2 separate regions of the Homo sapiens genome follow, and region 1 is linked to region 2. Evidence: fine-mapped expression QTL. A gene starts in region 2. The other region holds a variant in brackets. All regions are shown on one strand. Distances are between the middles of the regions. Region 1 overlaps KCNG4 (potassium voltage-gated channel modifier subfamily G member 4). Region 2 holds the start of KCNG4 (potassium voltage-gated channel modifier subfamily G member 4).

Evidence for each region.
Region 1: its variant is fine-mapped to the expression of KCNG4 in cerebral cortex (GTEx, PIP above 0.99).

What each region holds. Positions count from the first base shown.
Region 1 is chr16:84,215,207-84,220,506 of GRCh38, forward strand. It overlaps KCNG4 (potassium voltage-gated channel modifier subfamily G member 4), which reads right to left. Exons shown (of 3, transcript NM_172347.3): 3 at 3,451-5,300. Among named protein-coding and RNA genes, the nearest start is that of ADAD2-AS1, 21 kb to the left of the region's middle. The variant A/G (reference allele first, on the strand shown) is at 3,321.
Region 2 is chr16:84,237,722-84,243,092 of GRCh38, forward strand. KCNG4 (potassium voltage-gated channel modifier subfamily G member 4) reads right to left here and starts at 2,291. Exons shown (of 3, transcript NM_172347.3): 1 at 1,949-2,291.

The sequences.
Region 1 (5,300 bases), 23 kb before region 2:
CCTCCTCAGAGATGGTCTGGATGGCTGGCACATACCTGGCCTGCTGTCACATTCTATCTGCCTGCTGGAGTGGGGGCAGGCACATTAATTTCATTTTTTATTTGAATGTCGTTAGGCCAGGCTGGCACTCCCCCAGTCCCCCTTTCCTCCCCTCTCTCAATCTCCACTACCCCGCGAGCATGTCCTGGGGTCACTTCCCCAATACTCCTGGGCTCACCTCCTAAATAAACGACTCGTAGGACATGGCACTCCCAGACACAATGCCCTGAGAGGGACACAGCCTCACTTATGTAATGTCCTGGCCAGGAATGCATGGCCTCAAAGCACCAGGAGACAGCGGACAAACCCAAAATGAGCGTCCTTGTGTGCATGATATATTTGACTCATAATTTCAATGCCATCTAAGTCAAAAGCTGGGGAAATGGTCCAGATTACAGGAGACTACAGAGATAGGATCCGTACATATATCTGGTGTATCCCATCCTAGGCTGGACCCTGTACTGGAGGAAAAAATGCTACAAAGGATATTGTTAGGTCAGCCGACAAAATTGGAACTGACAGTAGATTAGATTAAAGTAGTGCATGGAAGTTAATTGTGCTGAAGCTGAGAACTGAACTGTGGTTCTGTAAGAATCTCCTTCTTCTAAGTATCTATACACCGATGTGTTTAGGGTCTCCTTGGGCTTTCCATCCTAAAATGAGGCAACTGGTTTACTTTAGAGCTTCCTACCCTTTTGCAGGGGCAGGGAGAGGAGTCAAGGATTCCTTTGAGAAGCTGATGAAATTGTTGGACACTTAACACTTCAAAGTGCACCTAAGCCCCAGAGGCTCATAGACCTCTGGAACCTCATGGAAACTCCCAGCTAAGCCTCCTTGGGCTGAGAGTCTTCTGCTAAGCCTTCTGGTCACCACATTCTAAAGTGACATCTAGGCTGGTCATGGTGGGCTCATACCTGTAATCTCAACACTTTGGGAGGTTGAGGCAGGAGGATTGTTTGAGCCCAGAAGTTTGAGGTCAGCCTGGGCAACATAGTGAGACCACATTTCTACAAAAAATAAAAAAATTAGCCAGGCACGGTGGTGCATACCTGTGGTCCCAGCTACTCAGGAGGCTGAGGCGGGAGGATTGCTTCAGCCCAGGAGGTCAAGTCTGCAGTGAGTTACGATTGCACCACTGCACTCCAGCCTGGGCAACAGAGCAAGATCCTGTCTCAAAAAAAAAAAAATCAATTAATCAAAAATAAAGGTGCACCTAGAAAGCTGAGGGCCATGATGTGGGGAACTTACTTTCAAATGGTTCAATAAACATATTATTAACAATACCATGTAGATATGACAAAAATATAGATGGAGCAGGCCAGGCGCGGTGGCTCATGCCTGTAATCCCAGTACTCTGGGAGGCCGAGGAGGGCAGATCACGAGGTCAGGAGATCGAGACCATCCTGGCTAACACGGTGAAACCCTGTCTCTACTAAAAATACAAAAAGTTAGCCGGGCGTGGTTGTGGGCACCTGTAGTCCCAGCTACTCGGGAGGCTGAGGCACGAGAATCACTTGAACCCGGGAGGCGGAGCTTGCAGTGAGCCGAGATGGCACCACTGCACTCTAGCCTGGGCAACAGAGCGAGACTCCCATCTCAAAAAAAAAAAAAAAGATGGAGCAAAGAAGAAAGCAGATGGACAAAATGCAAAAGCAAGCAAACAAAAAAAAGTGGTGTTGAGGTGTTTTATGCGCTATTTTTGTTCTTGCAACTTTTCTGTGGGTTTGACATATTATCCAAGTAAAATGTTAAAAAATCAATTGCTTGGTGACTAGTAATCTTTCATTAGGTGATCCCCAGGATTAGCATGTCACTGTGAGGAAGAGCAGGCAGGGAGTTTAATATGCTGCTGGGGAAAGGCAGGCCACTGAGTGTGTGTAGCCAGCTAGCCAGGTGCTTCCAGAATGAGGCCTCATGGTGGGTGAGGTGCCCTGATGTGGTGGGCGGGAAGTGGAAAGAGATCTCAGTGAACTTACATTCAAACTTGGACTACTTGCCAATTTTTGCCAAGGGAGCAATTTTGTGGATAGTCAAGGGACAGAGTCTGTTTTTCTTTCTCACCTCTCTCCGTGTTCTTGTCTGCCCCTCTCCGTAGTATCAACTGTGGCAATGAGCCCTACTTCCCAGAGTCATAGATTGTCCAAACTGGGAAGGGCTTTAATCCTCTCATCTAAACTTTCCCTGGGATAAATGAGAAAATGAAAGTCTGGTAAAACTGATTTGTGTAACTTTTGTGTAACACAAAGTACGTGGGACACCCGAAGACATCTGCTCAGGACAGCGTGGCAAAGTGTTGTTACCATCTCATCTTCAATCTTTTCTTTGAGGACTTGGACGCTGTTTTACATGAGCCTAAGAGCAGCAGCATGACAGAGTGTTCTGCTGGAAATTGAGATACTTGGATCTAACTAGATGAACTGGCTGTGTGGCCTTTGGGTTGGTGGCCCTCCCTCTCTGAGCCTTAATCTCTCCATCTTTTTTTTTTTTTTTTTTTGAGACTGGGTCTAACTCCATCGCCCAGGCTGGAGTGCAGTGCTGCCATCATAACTCACTGCAGCCTCGACCTCCCAGGCTCAGGTGATCCTCCCACCTCAGCCTCCTGAGTAGCTGGGACTACAGGCACGTGCCACCACAGCCTGCTAATGTTTGTATTTTTTGTGGAGACTTGCTTTTGCCATATTGCCCAGGCTGGTCTTGCGCTCCTTGGCTCAAGTGATCTGTCCACCTTGGCCTCCCACAGTGTTGCGATTACAGGCATGAGCCACTGTGCGGGGCTTCATCTCTCCATTTTAAAATGAGGGAGTTGATTTACTTAAGAATTTGTTGTCCTTCTGGAGGGGTCATTGATTCCCTTGAGAATCCGATGGAATCACTGGACACTTTGCACTGTGACATGCACGTCATCTACAGAGGTGCACAGGTCCCTCGTGGAAACTCCCTGCTCGGATTGACTGTCTTCCAATGAGACTTCCAGTTACCATATTCTAAAGTCCTAAAACCATCGAAACAGAGTCAACGGGTCCCCAGTACAGTCTTGCATACCTTTCATGCTATTGAAGAATTAACTCACCCTTCTCCGTCTCACTTCTTGGGCTCAACTCTGTCTGGCTAGGACACGCTGAGTCAAAGTTTCCCAGTTACCTCTGGCAACCACGTCGACAATACAACACGAAAATGGCTCGCCGTAAAGGGCCGTTTTCTCTTTGCCTTCAGCTGGAAGATGTCCACCTTTGGCTATAGTCATGCCCACTGGCCTCAGAGAAAACAAGAGCTTCTGGGTA[A/G]CATAAGGGACCTTTCAGCCAACAGGGGTGAAGAAACTGCCTGGTAACTTGCTTGTCACTTCCACCCCATTCAATCAGCACGAAGGAAAGGCAGTTCGGCAACGCTAGACTAAAACAATTTAGACCCGTCTCCTGGGACATTACCAGGGAGAAAAAATAGAGCGTTTAATTAAGCCCCACATGCGAGCAATCAATTCCAATTTTCCATGTCTAATTTAGCAGAGAATCTCAACTGGGTGAACATTAAGACACTATAGAATCTCATAATGGTGGTGGTGCTTCACCTAATTTTGATTTTAAATGTTTCTTTTAGTGCTGGCACACTTTGGTGAAGAGGTCTGGTAGGTGAAGCAGAGGAGAAGGGATATGCCTGGGTAGAAGCCAGTTACAGGGATGGGCAGAGCTGTCATTAAGAAGTTTTCACCAGGCATGCGCACAAAATATGTCTTCGATGAGAAGGCAGGGCAGATGTGGGGGCTGATGTGGGTCCCAGACCTTCCAGTGGCTGTTTAGGCTTTGTCTCTGGTTCCAGAATGAGCTTACCACTCAGTTCAAAGGGCTGGGCTGGACACTGACGGGAAGGAGAGGAGACTGGGGATTTGCACATTCTTTTCAGTGTCATTAATTGCAAATGTTTTGCCCCAGGAGGCAGAGCTCTGCCTGCTTTGCTGCTGGTCTTCTTCATCCGCAGGACAGTCCCTGAGCTTGCTTTGTGGAACCCAGGTCAGAAAACCACAGATCTAGTCCAACACCTGCCTGCAGCTAACTGAGGGGGAAGGGGCCTGCCCGAGGTCACACAGGGAGTGAAGACACTGGGTTTCAGCCAGCGCCCAAGCCAGTCAGTCCCCAGAAAGAGAGTAAGTGGGAGACTTTGTCCTTTTACTATTTTGCCTAAGCGTAGTTATTAAAATGTTAGTCAGGCTTGGGCACGGTGGCTCACGCCTGTAATCCCAGCACTTTGGGAGGCCGAGGCGGGCGGATCACGAGGTCAGGAGATGGAGACCATCCTGGCTAACATGGTGAAACCCCGTCTCTCCTAAAAATACAAAAAATTATCCAGGCGTGGTGGTGGCACCTGTAGTCACAGCTACTCAGGAGGCTGAGGCAGGAGAATGGCGTGAACCTGGGAGGCGGAGCTTGCAGTGAGCCGAGATTGAGCCACTGCACTCCAGCCTGGGTGACAGAGGGAGACTCTGTCTCAAAAAAAAAAAAAAAAAAAATGTTAGTCTGGGCCGGGTGCGGTGGCTCGTGCCTGTAATTCCAGCACTTTGGGAGGCCGAGGCAGGCGGATCACCTGACATCAGGAGTTCAAGACCAGCCTGTCCACATGGTGAAACCTTGTCTCTACTAAAAATATCAAATTAGCTGAGCATTTGATCTCCAAATAGCTGGGATTACAGGTGGTGGGTGCCTGTAATCCCCGCTATTTGGGAGGCTGAGGCAGGAGAATTGCTTGAACCCAGGAGGCGGAGGTTGCAGTGAGCTGGGATCAAGCCACTGCACTCCAGCCTGGCGGACAGAGAGAGACTCTGTCAATAAATAAATAAATAAATAAGTAATAAATAAAATGTTACTCTGGAACAGAAACACTTCTATGGCTACTGTCCAAGGTGCCTGTGACATGGAATTTCTACGCAACGCTTATGGGAATCTGCCTGTCACTTTGTGGAGTGGAGTGGCCATCCAGGCTGGGGATTTTATAGGGTGAAGGGGCTTTCCTTGTGTCATGGCCACTGAACCACTATGTCACCTGGTGACATGTCAGCTTGGGAAAGATTGGGGTCTAAAAGAATGGGGACATGTGCCTGTATAGTTGGGGGGACACCTGGAGGACTCCAAGGAAAGGCAGGCTCGCCAGGAGGCCAAGGCTCCCTGGACGCTAGGTGCTGGTGCAGGGTGCTTCCTGGGCCAGAGCCCTCTGCCACGCTGCTGTCTGGCATTGCCATCAGTGGAGGACTATGCCTGGCACACAGCGGGAAA
Region 2 (5,371 bases):
AACCCTTCCCTGGTGGAACCTCTACCGACATCTCAGAAGGATGTCTCCAGAATAGACGTTGCACGGATGGGGGCTTGAGTAATTCAGTCCTGAGCTGGACAAGTCGGAGCGGTGCCACTTCTGGGCTCTGTGGTCTCAGGTATGTGGCTTAACCTCTCTGATCTCAGCATCATTCATTCAAATGACAAGACTCATACTAATCTTGCAAGGTACAGGTAGTAAAAATAGAGCTTAAGAATGTAGGCTCTCAGGTTCACTGGCAGGGACCGATCCCTTACAGACTGCCAGCACAGGTGGGTTACTCAGTGTCTCTGAGTCCTTTGCTTTATCTGTATGACTGGGGCAGTCTGAGTGCCCACATCGTAGGGCATGGCAAGGGTTATATGCAGTAATATACAAGAAAGTGTGTATTAATAATACTTCTAGATGCTTCTGACATGCCTGGCTTCCCCTAACTCACCTCAACAACCTCATGAAGTAGACATAAGAGCTCCACTTTATAGATAAGGAGGCTGACGCACGGAAGGTTTGCGTGTCTTGCCTACTGTTTAGCAAGCACCTGACATCAGGAAGGTTCAGCGAGGGTCTGTTATTAAAGGTTCGAGTAGCCCAGGAATGTGACTATGCTTAGCGAGCATCCAAGCATCTAGGTCTCAGGAGGAACTCCACCAGTCTCGCTTAATCCCTCTTGGTCGCTTCCCCATTTGGGGAGGCCTTTGCTAAGGGGACGGAGGAGCATTGCGTACTTGCAATCACAGTACTCCTCCATGTTCGTTGCGTGCTTGCCTCAGCCATCCTTGCTGTGTGACCTCCAGCCAGTTACTCCCCCTCTCTGGGCCCGCAGGCTTTTATGTGCAGAATGAAGGGGCCTCCAGCCGCAGTGGTTCATGCCTGTAATCCCAGCACTTTGCGAGGCAGAGGCAGGCAGATCATCTGAGGTCAGGAGTTCGAGACCAGCCTGGCCAATGAAACCCTGTATCTACTAAAAATACAAAAATTAGCTAGGCAAGGTGGCATGTACCTGTAGTCCCAGCTACTCGGGAGGCTGAGGCAGGAGAATCGCTTGAACCCGGGAGGCGGAGGCTGCAGTAAGCCGAGATTGCGCCATTGCACTCCAGCCTGGACAACAGAGCGAGACTCCATCTCAAAAAGAAAAAAACAAAAAAAAATGACGGGGCCTCTAATGCTGTCTCCATTTCAGACCTATATGAGGTGCTTGACTTAGTGTGAGTGTTTTAGATTTAGCCACTTCACATATTTAAAAAGTCCTTTTCATAATATTTCTCACCTTCAGATCCTGCAACCATTTCTTATGCTATTCATTCTAGCCAAAGCCATTTCCAAAGCATCTATAAGCTTACATTTTCAGATGCACTCCACTCCAATCAAGAGAAAAACTCGGCAGTGGAACGGAAATCAAAGTTCCTCTCAATTTCAGAGCCGGTTGGATTCCGGTGGATAGTGGAGAGTGAATCGTAACCTATTTCACACTCTTGCTCCCTACACAACATTCTGTTGCTCTGAATGCATTACTTTGCTCACAGGGAATGGCCAGAGGAGGATGAGGAGCCTGCAGAGAGAAGAGTATTTTGAAATCTGGGGAGCCCTTTGCAAGCTTCCTCATTTTCCCAGTGCAAAAACCAAGACCCAGCGAGCGGAAGTAACTTGTCCAAGGTCACACAGCAAATCCGAATCCAACCCAGCACTCTGTCCCCCAGCCTGGGGCTCCTTCCAGAACCTGAAAACTGCCCTTTCTGCATTCACTGAATAAACCCAATTTTGCCATCTACGGCTCTCCAAACAGCTGGCAAACAGCTCCTTCTGGAGCACGGGAAAGGAATTCACTCAAACCAGCACTTTTGCCAAGGATGTCTAACAGCGTCAACTTCCCCCTGGCCCCCGCCCACCCTACAGCAAGCAGTAACTCTTCCCCTCCAGTTTAACTCACCTTCTTGTCTCAGGGAGCCAGTTTCCAGCTGTTTCTCTGCCAGGCAAGGGGAGCCCATCTCTTGGTGCCCAGGGAAGGGACAGGTTTCTGGTGGAGATGAAGGGGAAGAAAAAAATCCCCAAAACAGCAGTTTCTAGCAGAGTCAGTTTCCAATCTTTCTTCCCGTGCCTCCTCCAGAAACCAGAAGTTCATTCATTCTGCATCTCTCTCTCCAGCAGCTGCAGGAGAGCCCTGGGGGATTGAGGTGGGATTTTTTTTTTTTTTTAAAGGACCCAGAAGTCCCTTTCCTTATGAGAGATGAGGGTCTGGGGGTTCTTGCTGGGAGGGAGCCAGGGCAGCTGTCCTGGTTGAGCAGCGGACTCTGCACTTCAAGTCCCACGGGGACAGCCAGTGTGGGGGGGTGTGGAATGGGAAGGGCTTAGAAATAATCTCTCCATCAGCCAGCAGCAGGAAGAAGCAGCAGCCGCTGCCACTCTGCCAACCGCCTAGGAGGCAAGGGGAGCTGTCCTCCCTCCTCTGGCATGGAGGAGCACAACTCGGGAGGAGCAGAGGGCAACTTGGGGCCGGAGGCATCTGCAGCTACCTGTCCCAGGCACCCCAGAGTCTCTCGGGGTATGCTGATGATGGTGACAGGCTCAAGTTGAAGCTGCAGGAGGAACTTTTTGCTGCTTTTAAGCAGCCCAGGCCTGGGACAGGTTCAGACAGAAGCCCAGGCTCTGAGCGCTGGGTGGGAGTCAGGGGGGCTGTGTTACAGAACAGCAATAGGAAGAGCTCCGAGCTTGGAATTCACACACATGCCTGGATCCTGGCTCCTATGTGAAAGGCTGGGTGACCTTGGCCAGGTGAGTTAGTGCTTCTGAGCCTCAATTGTCTTGTCTCTAAAACATGGGAATGAGAGAGGGTTCAGGGAAGGTCAGAACCATAAGTGCAAGCTCCTGTGCTGGTTGGATGGTTGGGTGGGTGAAAAGGAAGAGGCATCAGTCCAGGGCCTGGGTGTGAACTTGGACTCTGCACTGCCTGGCTGTGTGTTCTTGGTCAGTCACTTCCCCTCTCTGGGCCTTGGGTTTCTCAGTCAAATGAGGACAGTGAAACCAGCGATGGCTGCAATTGTAAAACCAGCATCTTGTAGTTGCTCACTACACGTTGACTGTTCTTCACTTTCTTAAGAGGTTTTGCAGCCCAGGCTCTTGGCTTCTGAATGTGTTATCTTCACTGCATTTGATAGTTGAGGCCCTGAGAAGAGGCTTGCTCAAGGTCATCTTGCTGGTTAGAACCATCACTTAGGCCGGGTGTGGTGGCTCACAGCTGTCATCCCAGAACTTTGGAGGCGGAGGCGGGCAGATCACAAGGTCAGGAGTTTGAGACCAGCCTGGCCAACGTACTGAAACCCTGTCTCTACTAAAAATACAAAAATTAGCTGGGCATGGTGGCGGGTGCCTGTAATCCCAGCTACTCGGGAGGCTGAGGCAGGAGAATTGCTTGAATCCGGGAGGCGGAGGTTGCAGTGAGCTGAGGTCGCGCCACTACACTCCAGCCTGGGTGACAAAGTGAGACTCTGTCTCAAAAAAAAAAAAAAAAAAAAAGAACCATCACTTAACAGACGCTTGAGTTTTGATGGGAGGATCCAGGAGTGAGGGAGATTAGAGGGTGAGCCTTCCACAGCTGCCTGCAAGGGGATGACAGGTGCTGCTGACCTAGGTGGGCTCTCTGTGGCCTTGGCAATGGGAACGAATCCAAGCAGAGAAGAGAACTGACTGAATGGAGGTCCATCTGGTATTGCGGTTTTCAAATGGTATTGCTTGAAGCCTTAGGGCTCTGCAGAAATGATTGAGGGGCCTGGCCTGGGGCAGTGACAACGGGGAGGATGAACCCCTGGACCTGCTACCTCAGCCATGGCAGCTGCACTCTGATCTGTCTCCATAAGACTGTAAGTGTAACCCCAATAAAGGCTGTGGCCCAGCATGGTCCAGTGTCCACACAGAGCCACTCAAAGAGATCCCAGAGCACCTGCCAGTAATGGAGAAGTTTCCTTCCCTCCTTCCACTGACTCCCGTGTTCCTCAGACCCCACAGCTGCTCCAATGGTGCTCTTAGAAGAGTCTTCAGAATTGTCTTTCCAGCTCATGATTCCTCCTCCTACCCCAGCTGTCTCCCCACCTCTCTCAGCTGTTTCTTATTTGTCTGGATTTAGCCTTTCTGGTTAAATCTCCCCTAACTTATCCCCATTCCTCTCAGTTCTCTCTGGATCCTGAGTATATGGGTTCAAATCAAGAATTTACCAATTCCCTGCTGGGTGACCTTGAGCAAATTTCTTAACCTCTCTGTGCCTTAAATTTTTTTGTCTGTGACCTGAAGATGACAGCATCTATCGATTTGTTGTGAGTTTTGAACAAATCAATTTACATTGATAAGGCTCTTAGAAGACTGCCTGTCACAAAAGTGAGTCCTATCTATTCAAATGCTTGCTATTATTATGATTATCTTTTTTTTTTTTTTTTTTTTTTTTGAGATGGAGTCTCGCTCTGTTGCCCAGGCTGGAGTGAAGTGGCAAGATCTTGGTTCACTGGAGCCTCCGTCTCCGGGTTCGAGCAATTCTTGATCCTCAGCCTCCTGAGTAGCTGGGATTACAGGCACCTGCCACCATACCCAGCTAATTTTTGTTTTTTTAGTAAAGACAGGGTTTCCCCATGTTGGCCAGGCTGGTCTTGATCTCCTGGCTTCAAGTGATCCACCTGCCTCTGCCTCCCAAAGTGCTGGGATTACAGGTGTGAGCTACCGTGCCCGGCTATGATTACCATCTTAGCAATTTTTTTTCCCCAAATTACCCAAGAAAGATTTAGGTAAATACAGGAGTCTGCTGTTCAAAAACTTTTCTAAAAGAAGGCTTGATTTACTGACCTAGTGCAGGTCCCTCATTTTACCTATAGAGGAACTCAGACCCAGTGAAGGGGAGAGCCCTGCCTGAGCCCTCCCAGCCAGTGGATGGCACTGCCAGGCTCAGTGTGGACTCACAGTCCAGTGCTCTTTCCACAGCTCAGTGCCTTCTGTCAATACACTTTGCCCAGGTTGTAGGACTTTTCCCTCAGCCTGGTGTTCAGTCCCGTCAGCCCTTTCCCCAGGGCATCCACTAAGCCCTTCTTCAGGTCTTTGTGAAGTCCCAGCCACCTTTTGGCTTAGTGCTACTGTCTTCTTGTACCCAGTGTCCCTCCCGGGTATGGACACTTGACCTCAGCTAATCAGGGCCAGTAACCCATCTCCCATCCTCCTGGCGTCCTGGAAGCCTGGAACTCGAGGCATACGTAGAAATGCCCCACCCAGATGTCTTCTGCCACATTTTTCTGATCAAGGGATGAGCCATAGTGACTACGTGTGAGCTTCTTATGGCTGCAGTAATAAATAACACCAATGTAGAAGCTTTAAATAA